Linked DNA regions of Homo sapiens: region 1 is linked to region 2. Evidence: fine-mapped expression QTL. Tissue or cell type: T cells. Region 2 holds a variant in brackets; the other region holds the start of a gene. All regions are shown on one strand. Distances are from middle to middle.

Evidence for each region. PIP is the estimated chance that this variant, and not a neighbour inherited with it, causes the effect.
Region 1: REELD1 starts here. The variant in region 2 is fine-mapped to the expression of REELD1 in T cells (TOPMed, PIP above 0.99).

The regions. Positions count from the first base shown.
Region 1 is chr4:146,212,434-146,217,662 of GRCh38, reverse strand. REELD1 (reeler domain containing 1) reads right to left here and starts at 3,125. Exons shown (of 8, transcript NM_001354631.1): 1 at 2,969-3,125; 2 at 2,465-2,587; 3 at 503-721. The coding sequence starts at 710.
Region 2 is chr4:146,187,418-146,192,646 of GRCh38, reverse strand. It overlaps LSM6 (LSM6 homolog, U6 small nuclear RNA and mRNA degradation associated), which reads right to left. Exons shown (of 4, transcript NM_007080.3): 4 at 1,112-3,025. The coding sequence ends at 2,991. Among named protein-coding and RNA genes, the nearest start is that of LSM6, 14 kb to the right of the region's middle. The variant G/C (reference allele first, on the strand shown) is at 2,558.

The DNA of each region.
Region 1 (5,229 bases), 25 kb before region 2:
TATTTGTGTCTTCTTATACAGATCACAATTAATACAGAGATTAGTTATCATGTGGTTTTTATGACACAAATATTTTATGCTTATTTTTAACCTGATAATTGCTTCTTAAGATTAAGCCAGGCTGGGCATGGTAGCTTGTGCCTGTAATCCCAGCACTTTTGGAGGCTGAATCAGGAGGTTCACTTGAGCCCAGGAGCTCGAGACCAGACTGGGCAACATACAAAGACCCTGTCTCTAAAAAAAATACAAAAAATTAGCAGGGCACAGTGGCATGTGCCTGTAGTCCCAGCTTCTTGGGAGCCTGAGGTGGGAGGATCACTTAAGCCCAGGAGTTTCAGACCAGCCAGGGCAACACAGTGAGACTCCATCTCTACAAAAAACAAAAAAAAGGGATTAAGCCAAATTTAGTCCAGGAAGCTTCTGACTGGGACAAACACAAACTGGAAGGTCCATGGGGGCTCTGGGGCTCCTCGGAGTCTCTCTAAGCCTCTCTGGTACATACCTGGAATCTTGTCACCTGGTGCATAGGAAGTCCTGTGGGTGTGGATGGTGATGTGGTGGCTGTCCTGGTGCTGAGGCTGGGCTTGGATGTGCTTGGGCTGCATGTCATCACAGGCCACCGTGCTGGCACCATGGGAAAAGGCAGATGAGCAGGAAGCCAGGCAGAGGGTGGTACAAGCCCAGCCCACGAGGGCAGCCTGCATCCTCATCCTGCCCTCTCCTGTATCATGACAAACAGCAGCTTCAGTCCAGACGTTATTTAGGAAAACGACATAAAGTCTTCTCGGGATGTGACTAACCTGAACCCCACACTGCCTCTGTACCTGAGATGCTTTTAGTGCAGCCTCCCAGGATTGCTAATGTTCAAGGCCAAGATCAAAAGGAAATGCCAGGCTATAGGAAGTGTTTCATTTCCAAACACCTTTTTAAAAACTTCTGTTCTTGTAATTTTCTCATAAGACCAGACTGCTTTTTTTGTTGTTGTTCAAAAGAGAGGCTTTAATTATTGAGTCAAAGAAATAAAACCAGAAAATGTTTGTATCCTAGCGTGAGCTCCTTGCAAGCTGACTGGTACCCAAAGGCGGTGTGGCCTCTGATACATTATCTGAAGTAGACACTCAATACACCACCATGGTCAGGCAGCATGGCATGGGATGGCTTGGCTGAGCATCTTATCTCTGTTGCAATTGAAAATTACCAAGTTAAGTGCTACAAAACATCTACCAACTATCAATTATTTAGAAGTGACTGTTAAGCTGGCAATGCTTTGATATCTCTTTGCCCTTTCTTTGGCTGTTTTTAGCTATTTCACTACTTTTAGTAAAGAAGATGAGCAGAGAAAGAAATACTCAATTTATTCTATAACTTCTTAAACATACTGATAACAATTTTGGCTCAGGAATAGAATACAATGATTGAATAAAATAGCATTTATAGAGTAAATTTTATTTTTGTTTACTACCTCTAATTCCCATCAAGAGGAAGAATTAAAATTTGGCAATGTAAAAGAAGATGACAAAAATAAAATGAGAGATAGCAAACAAGGCAGATGAAAATCTGCCTACATAAATATTTAGGATTATCACAGGCATTTTTTAACAGTTCTGTTTTAGGCCAGGTGCGGTGGCTCACGCCTGTAATCCTAGCACTTTGGGAGGCCGAGGCAGGTGGATTGCGTGAGCACAGGAGTTCAAGACCAGCCTGGGCAATACGGTGAAACCCTGTCTTTACTAAAATACAAAAAATTAGCTGGGTGTGGTGGCATGTGCCTATAGTCCCAGCTACTCGGGAGGCTGAGGCAGGAGAATTGCTTGAACCTGGGAGACCAAGGTTGCAGTGAGCTGAGATCATGCCATTGCACTCCAGCCTGGGCAAAAGAGCGAGACTCTATCTCAAAAAAAAAAAAAAAAGTTCTGTTTTTTTTTTTATAGTCCTGCACACAGGCATTTTAGAAGTTTGGCTAATTTTTTGACCTAAGGAACAATGCAAGGCAAAAAAAAAAAAAAAAAAATGCCCTCCCCTGTAGTCAGCTGGTTTTAAAAGGTGAAAATAAAATCCTGAAAATGTAGTAAAACTAGCTATCAGAACAATAGACTAAGGAAATAATCCATAAACCAAATAATCAAGTGTCCTCCACTCCCATTGTCTCTTCACACAACACCACCTTTTACATTCACAAGCTAAAAGAAGACAGGAATATGATCTATACCTCAAATTTCTTAGACATAAGAGTCCTTCAGACAATGCCTTTCTTTTCTAAGTTTGTTTTCTATGAAGCACCAAAGTCACACATCTCCATACTACAAGGAACCATGGCTACAGCTTCTCAGACACATTAGGAGATAATGAAGATGAACTGTGTAAAAGCACATTCTCAGTCAAGGGGGCTCAGGGTTCTTCTCATTTTCTTTCATAAGGGCCACATACAAAATGCCCCTTGAATGCTGGGCATGGTGGTGCGCACCTATAGTTCCAGTTGCTCAGGAGGCTGAGGCAGGAGGATCACTTGAATCCAGGAGGTCGAGGCTGCAGTGAGTTATGATCACATCACTACACTCCAGCCTGGGTACAGAGCAAGACCCTGTCTCTTAAAAGAAAAGAAAGAAATGAAATGAAAATGCTCCTCAAGTCCTTGCTGATGGCAAGTGGTCTTTCCAAAGGCAGATCAGACACAGTTGCCTACAAGGGAAGGGGAGTGAGTGCCTGGACTCACAGACTACGGCCACAGCCCCACCTCCCACCCTCCTGCCTTAGGTTTCACTGTGTCTTCTTTCCCACTAGCATCTTGTCTACCTGAACCCTGAAAACTATCCACTTGGAGCTGAGCATGGTGGCTCACACCCGTAATCCCAGCACTTTGGGAGGCCGAGGCAGGAAGATCACTTGAAGCCAGAAGTTCAAAACCAGCCTGCGCATCACAGGGAGACCTTGTCTCTACAAAAATAAATAAATAAAAACATCCACTTACCTAGGAACACAGTTTTCTTCAGGCTTGATAGAATGGCTTCCTCCCGCAGAGTTGCAAACACATCCCTTAAACATAAGTATTTTCTTCTCCTTTCAGTTTTTCCTCTAATGGGGAGAATAACAGCTGCTACCACTAATCCTCAGCATCTCCAGGAACTGTTCCTCAGTGTCCAAATCCAACCTAAATCGTATTAGCACACACATACACACACACACACACACACACACACACACACGGTTTACAGTCACATCATTGTTCAAGCCTGCGTGAAGAACTAGAAAGAACCGGAACTGGTTTTGCACAGGACTGGCACTGACATCCTTGGCAGAAGCTGGATGCCTCCATCTTGATCTCCCTGCAAAGGGGAGAATGTTTGAATGAAATGCATCTCAGCATTCTTGGCTTCTTGAGTCAGTGTGGACTGAAGTTACTCTTGGTGAAATAGAATTGATACGTTAGCCCAAGAGCAACGTTTGGTACAAAAAAATAACACGTGGCATAGGCACCTCCCGTATCAATTGCACTAAAGCTGGAGTTCACATTTTCATTCATCTAAGAATCTGCTGAGACACCTGATAATACCAGAGAGCCTATAGATCAGTGTTCCTCAATGTGTGGTCCCTAGAGTGCAACACCAGCATCACCTAGAAGCTTGCAACATTAACAATGAAGAAAAAGAGAGAGGAATGGATTTGGGAGATCAGGAGATCAGGTGGAGGTAGGATTTGGTGGCTGTTTGAATGCAAGGCGTCCAAGAGAGAATCCTAGGATTGATAGTCCTGGGTGATGTGGAGTAGGGGGCTGCAGAGAGAGCAATGTTCTGACTGTTAGGCCTTGTCTCCACTCAGAAAAAACTAAAGCTATGAGTGACTGAATAGGCAAGGCACTGGCTTAGGGACCAGGTTGCTAAGCCTTTTGTTGCAAGTGTAAATGAGACTATCTATCCTATAAACACCAAGGGAAATTGGGCTTCCTTGGCCTAGGATACCAGTATTCCCCACACACAGAACAAAAGCAAACAAATTCAATTTGGTTTCTCTAAGCTTCTATCCCACTAGGATTGGAGGCAATCTCAATCTCCCACTGAGTCATGAGAAATTCTGGGAGGTCTAGAAAATTAGGATACATTCCTTCCATGGCTGCTGTTATGATAGTTTTCAGAGCTCATGTGGTCACTTGAAGACTGTTAGTTGGAAGGCTTCTATGCCAAAAAGGGGCTCAGGTCTTCAGCAAGGCTGTGGCCTGGGTTCTTCCCACCCCCTCCACTGGGTCCTGACACAGATCTCTGCCCCTAGCAGGAGAGTGGCTAACCTCTTCTCCACTCCACTCTGCTCCTATCCCAGTCTTAGAGACAAAAGTGTCCCTCCTCTCCTTTTTTTTTTTACTCTCACCCCATTACCCTGGGCCACCTGGCATAATCCACCTACCACAGGTAGAGTGGTAATCTCCAACACCTCAGCTTTGCCCCTGAAACACAAACTCCCTGGATATACGGATTCTCAAAAGGCCCAACTACCAATTAGAATGAGGAGAGGAGTGCAAAGGTAGAGAGAGCGCACCTGCATGGCTCAATAAATAATCCTGCCATTTGCTCATGTAATATTTCTTGTTGAAAATCAGGAGGACACCATATCTTAGACATGGCCTTATCCTGCCTGCCACACCCACAGCCTCTGCTGAGCCGGCAGCGCATCTTATGCCACTCTCCCGACAAAGCTGATTGTACCAGGGGGGCATTCATCACAGGCGAGGGCCCTGCTGACTCAGGGCTGAGACAGAAACTCTCCCTGGGAATCTGACCAAGAACACATACAAGGCTACTCTATACGAGTGCTGGCCAATAGAAATAGAATGCAAGCCACATATGTAATTTAAAATTTTCTAGGCCGGACGCAGGGGCTCACGCCTGTAATCCCAGCACTTTGGGAGGCCAAGACAGGCAGATCACCTGAGGTCAGGAGTCCAAGACCAGCCTGGCCAACATGTTGAAACCCCATCTCTACCAAAAAATACAAAAATTAGCCAGGGATGGTGGCACGTGCCTGTAATTCCAGCTACTCTGGAGGCTAAGGCAGGAAAATTGCTTGAACCTGGGAGGTGGAGGTTGCAGTGAGCTGAGATCTTGCCATTGCACTCCAGCCTGGGCGACAGAGTGAGACCCTGTCTCAAAAACAAACAAACAAAAAAATTGGACTCTCCTTATTTTTAAAAAACGTGAAAAGGAACAAAAGACATTTGTTTTAATAATAAATTTAGTCAAT
Region 2 (5,229 bases):
CTGGATATTCAGACCCCAGAGGTCAGGACTAACCCTGCCACTCTTAGGTGGCATCTACCTCCACAATGGTCAGGGGCAAGCTTAGCGAAGACAGGCAGAGACACTCCACTGAGCACACGGCCTCCTGAAACCAGGTCGGTGGGGAGAAAAACTGAAGGTTGTCTTCCTTTCACCAACAATTTCTTTTTGTGGAGAAAAAAAAATTATAGTTAATGCAGTTGGGCTGTGGGGAACAGCAAGGCCACAGCATGGGCTGGGATTTACCTCTGAATCTAAGAGCTAGCCAGTACTCTGGAGGATCATCTGCTCGGAGGACAAAGGTCAGTGCAATCATAGGCGTGTCTGCCCCCAGTAAGGGAACATTCTGGATCTTTGGCCTGGAATGCTGTACTGAGGTCACCCAAGAGTCAGTGATTATCAAAGACAATTTTACCCCCTAGAGGTTGCTTCTATTGTTACAGATTATTATAGCCTCCGGGGCGGTAAGCCTTACACAGCAAGTCCAATGCTGCTGCACTTTTAGACCTTAAGGAAATCCCGTAAGCATTTGTTACTATTATTAATTAAGCATAATTAAGCGCTCCTAGCATGCATTCCATATTGCCTTGAGCAGAAAGCTTCAGATGTAAACCATCTTTCAATAACATTCCCTTCCTGAATGCTGAGATGAGAACATGAAAATCATACCACATGTCTGCCATCTGTATTTGTACTTGTCAACAGCTCTGTTTTGGGATAAACAGTTTTGAAATAAGAATCAATTCGACTTGTTGGAAGATTAGCCAAGGAATAGCTCAAAGACCAAAACAGAAAATGAAGTCAGATAGTCTGAAAATCGAGCACAATTTTGTTTCTCGCTAAACATTCTGTTTTGTCACAGCCCAAGAGAAAGAGTGTGGCAGACAGGGTTTGGGGGCACACAGACAGGGAAAATGTATGTTCTCAAGTAAAAAATTCTTCAACCTGGAACAAATGTCTTCGCTACAATGCAACTAGAAATCATTCACTGACCTCTAGGAGACTACAGTTAAGAACAAAGCAATTTAAGCATTTACACTTTGTTTCATGGTTCTACTATGTGAAGGTATACACAGGGGACAACTTGAGCGGGTTCAAGTGCATAATACAGTCCTTTATTACCATAAAAATGGCAGCACTTCCCAAAGTTGATCTTGATTAAAAGTAGTTCCATGGTTGAAAACAGTACTCCACTGTAGAGCTATTAAACTAGAGAGATGGCAAGGGGAAAATAAAGACTTATATATCAAAGGCGAGGTCAGGGAAGAAGTTAGAAAAAACAGGACGCTACAGATTAGTGGGAGACTACAATGGAATTGCTTTTAGAGGTGGCTGATATAAGTGAATGAAGGGACACAATAACCTGCAGCCCCACATATTCTACAAAACAAATGAGAACATGTATGCTCCACTTGGAGAGCCATCCATTTTCTCCTTAAAAGAACTCATTTATAAAAGAGCAAATTGGTGATTTGTACTTACATACTGGACCTTTTCCAAGCCCCTGTCAAGAAGTGATAAATTATTGAAGCATAGCATAAAGTGTTTTATTTTCAGTGTGCACACGGTAAAACCCTGTGAAATGCTTCTGTTCACCTTTCCCAAGTTATTAATTAAAAAATAATTGTTTCCAATTACTCTCTGATCTTTAAAATAAACCAAGACAAAACACTACATACACCTCTCCAGAATCAGCACTGCCCCTTCCCTCTCTCCTTCTCGATCCTGCCCCCCATCCTTCAACCAAGCAGTTGTTTCGAATCACACCATCGGCTCCTGAAATAGGAATGCTATTTAGATTGGGAAGGGAGGGAAGAGGAAGTCCAATACAACATTCACACAATTGTCTGGTATTCATTCAACCACAGTGCCCAGATATATTTGTTGTTCCTAGAGACAGCGTAAAACTGTTTGGAGAATAAAGCAGGGTTGTGGAAAGCTCATTAATAAATTGTGAAAATCCTCTCAGCAGGAGTCACATAACCAGAGGAGCTGCCTTGTGCCAAGCAACATAAAGCCTGGTGCTCTGCTCCTGGACAATGTCAAAGGCAAATACAGCTGATTTTTGAGAAAGGCCTCCCTACAGCCACTTGCTAGACCAGAGTTAGGAAAAATTCTTTCCCAATCTCAGCTCGGCAATTAGAACCTGAATTATGTTTACAAACTCTAGGCTTTGCTTTAATCTGACTGTGAGAGATGTACAGGAATGGCCCCTCCCCTACTGTGTTCATAAACTGAGAGAATAACGTTGATGCCAATGCTCCTGAAAGGGAGCAGGGAAACCTAAAAAGTCTAATTGCATAAGGAGATGCAGGGGGACCACTGACAGGAGGGCTTTCTCCTCACTGAAATCTTGTTCATCTTTAGGATTTCTCCAGCACCTCAGTTCGAATTCCCACTCCTTATGTGCAAGTGGCACTCTTGGCTTTCCAATTCTGTTTTTTATTTAGGTGACTCAATCAGTGGCTGAACTTCTGATCCTGTGGCCCCTTTTTGTAGCTTCAGACTGAAACTGGATGCCTTTGTAGAACATATTCAC[G/C]CAAGGATTCTGTATGAACAGAAAAGGATGCAATAAAGGAGGATTCCTCCAAAATGTTTTAATTATATGTCCATACAATATATAAAATATATGCATCATTTTAGCTGGATAAGAAAAGCAAGTCAAATGAAATGACACTTCTCGAAACTTAAGTTAAATAATCTTGTAGGAAGAGGTATATTTTGTCTTTTTTTAATTATTTTAGCATTCTGTACACTGACAACGAGGTAAAAGAAAATGACTGAAACTTACAAGTGAAAGAACATTTCACAATTAAATCCACAATTGTATACATTTATCTTACTCACATGTCAGTGAAAAATCACCAACTATTATAAAAAGAGGACAAATTGTATCACAAAAGAAGCAAAAATTAGAAAAAATTCATAAAAAAATATATCCAACTATGAAAAGCGTTGCTCTCTTGGTGTCTTCACATCCGTCTCTTCTGTGTACTGATGTACAACACTGAAAAGAAAAAAATACATAAATTGAAATTTAAAAAACCCTGCTTGTAAGTATACATAGTAGCAAGTTTAAAAGCCAACAGATTTTGGTCTGATACATCTGACATTTAAAAGGAATTCTCGTATCATTCAATTAACTCTAGAAGTACTGTAAGACTAGTTTTATGAATCTACACCCAGGTTTGATGTCTTACAAAACTGTCCTAATTTCATCCATGTGTCTCACTGACTCTTTAAAGTGTGACCAGGAAGATAAAATAAAATATATGTGAAAGTCCCTGGTATCTAAGAATGCTTTATAGTTAGAAGTATAAGAATTATGCTTTTCAGGGCTGAACACGGTGGCTCACGCCTGCAATCTTAGCACTTTGGGAGGCTGAAGCGGGTGGATCACTTGAGCTCAGAAGTTTGAGACCAGCCTGGGCAACATGGTGAAACCCCGTTTCTACCAAAAATACAAAAAATTAACCAGGCATGGTGGTATATGCACTTGTAGTCCCAGCGACTTAGAACGCTGAGGTGGGAGGACTGCTTGAGCTTGGGAGGCAGAGGCTGCAGTGAGCTGAGATTGCACAACTACACTCCAGCCTGGGCCACAGAGCGAGACTTCATCTCAGGAAAAAAAAAAAAAAAAAAAGATGCTTTTCAGAAAGTAAATCAGTAAATCTAACCAGGCTAGATCTCAAATTAAGAATAAACAACATATTTTCATCTGTCTCCCCAATACAAACTCTAAACTTGCTGTTTACCTTCTTAAATGCAACAGGATAAACAAGAGCTAAGGAGTTTATTTTTTATTTTTATTTTTTAATGATACCAAAGTCCTTATTCTGAGTTCCCGTTAAAAGTCTCATACTTTGGTGTTACCTAATGTTCTGCTTAGTGGTCTTCTCATGACTACCAACATGAACTCGTAGGATGTGTGGTCCGTAGGAATGAAACAAAATGAAATGCTTGGGTCACTTTGGCCAAACTAGAGGTGGTTCTCCCTTCCACCTTCCATGCCTACTCGGCTTCTGAGAGGTCTGCTCAAAGCGAACAGTAAGGTGTCTTCATCAAAGAACATAGCACAGATGAATCAAATAAGTCAAGATCCTCTTTAAGAGCCAATGATGTGAACTTGGGAGTCTAAAGATGAGTGTCACTGATTACATCATGGGAAATGTGACATGAAGGGAAGCATCAGAATGCCAGTACAGCCGCCCCCCAACCCTGCCCCCCAAGTCCTAGGGGTAGTGTGCACGTTAAAGGATCTACCCTATCAACACGCACAGAACCCAACCTGCCAGTGACTGCTGCCATTAGCTGTCTTGAGGTGAGACAAGATCATAACATTTCTTAGGAAAAAGAGGAGGTCAAATAAGGATATGAAAAATAGGATAAATAATTCTATAAATAGAAAGGACTAGAAAGCCAGGAAATAATGTATGTAAAAATATGATATGAAGAAATAAGGTCCTGTAAGCATAGGGGACAGACTCTTATTATAAAAGTCAGGAAGTTTAGTTTATAGCAAAGAGATCCAACTATTTAGGGGGTTGAAGACATCCAGAATTAAAGAAATCAACAAAAAATCTGAACTCAAGAATCCCAGAGTTTCTGGGAGATGGAACCAAAAAGTGGGGTAATTCTCATAATTCTGATATCTTTCCCTCCCCACCAAAAATACAAATATGACTTTATTATAATTTTCATTTTTAAACTAGGTACTTAAAAATAACTATAAAAATCATAGCAATTTATTAGTTGTTAAAAACTGAGTAACTTTTTCTATTTTGCCATTTTTGCCAAACTGAAGGATGCAAATCTGCATAGAAAGCATCTGAATGTTTAATAGAGAAGGGACAAATAGGACGAACTGCCAAATTATGCAAATCAAAGACAGCAGGGAAACGGTGCCCATTCTTACATCTCCAACTTCCAGGCTACAAGAAGCAGGAATATGTGTTGGGGAGATATACTACACTATATTCGAGAAAGCAGGGTTCCAGGTAAGGAGAACAATGTCCCTCAGTTCCTCATCACTAAAGGAAGGGAAGGAGAGAATTTTGGTTTCAAAATTCCATGAAGCATCTACAAAATAACTGGTCAAACTGAAGATCTGACATATAAGCATTTTAAAATAATCAAGCCTAAAAGTGGACTTTTAAATTATCTAGAAACCTCTTTGGTGATCTGGATTATAAATAGAAAGGCTTATTTTGA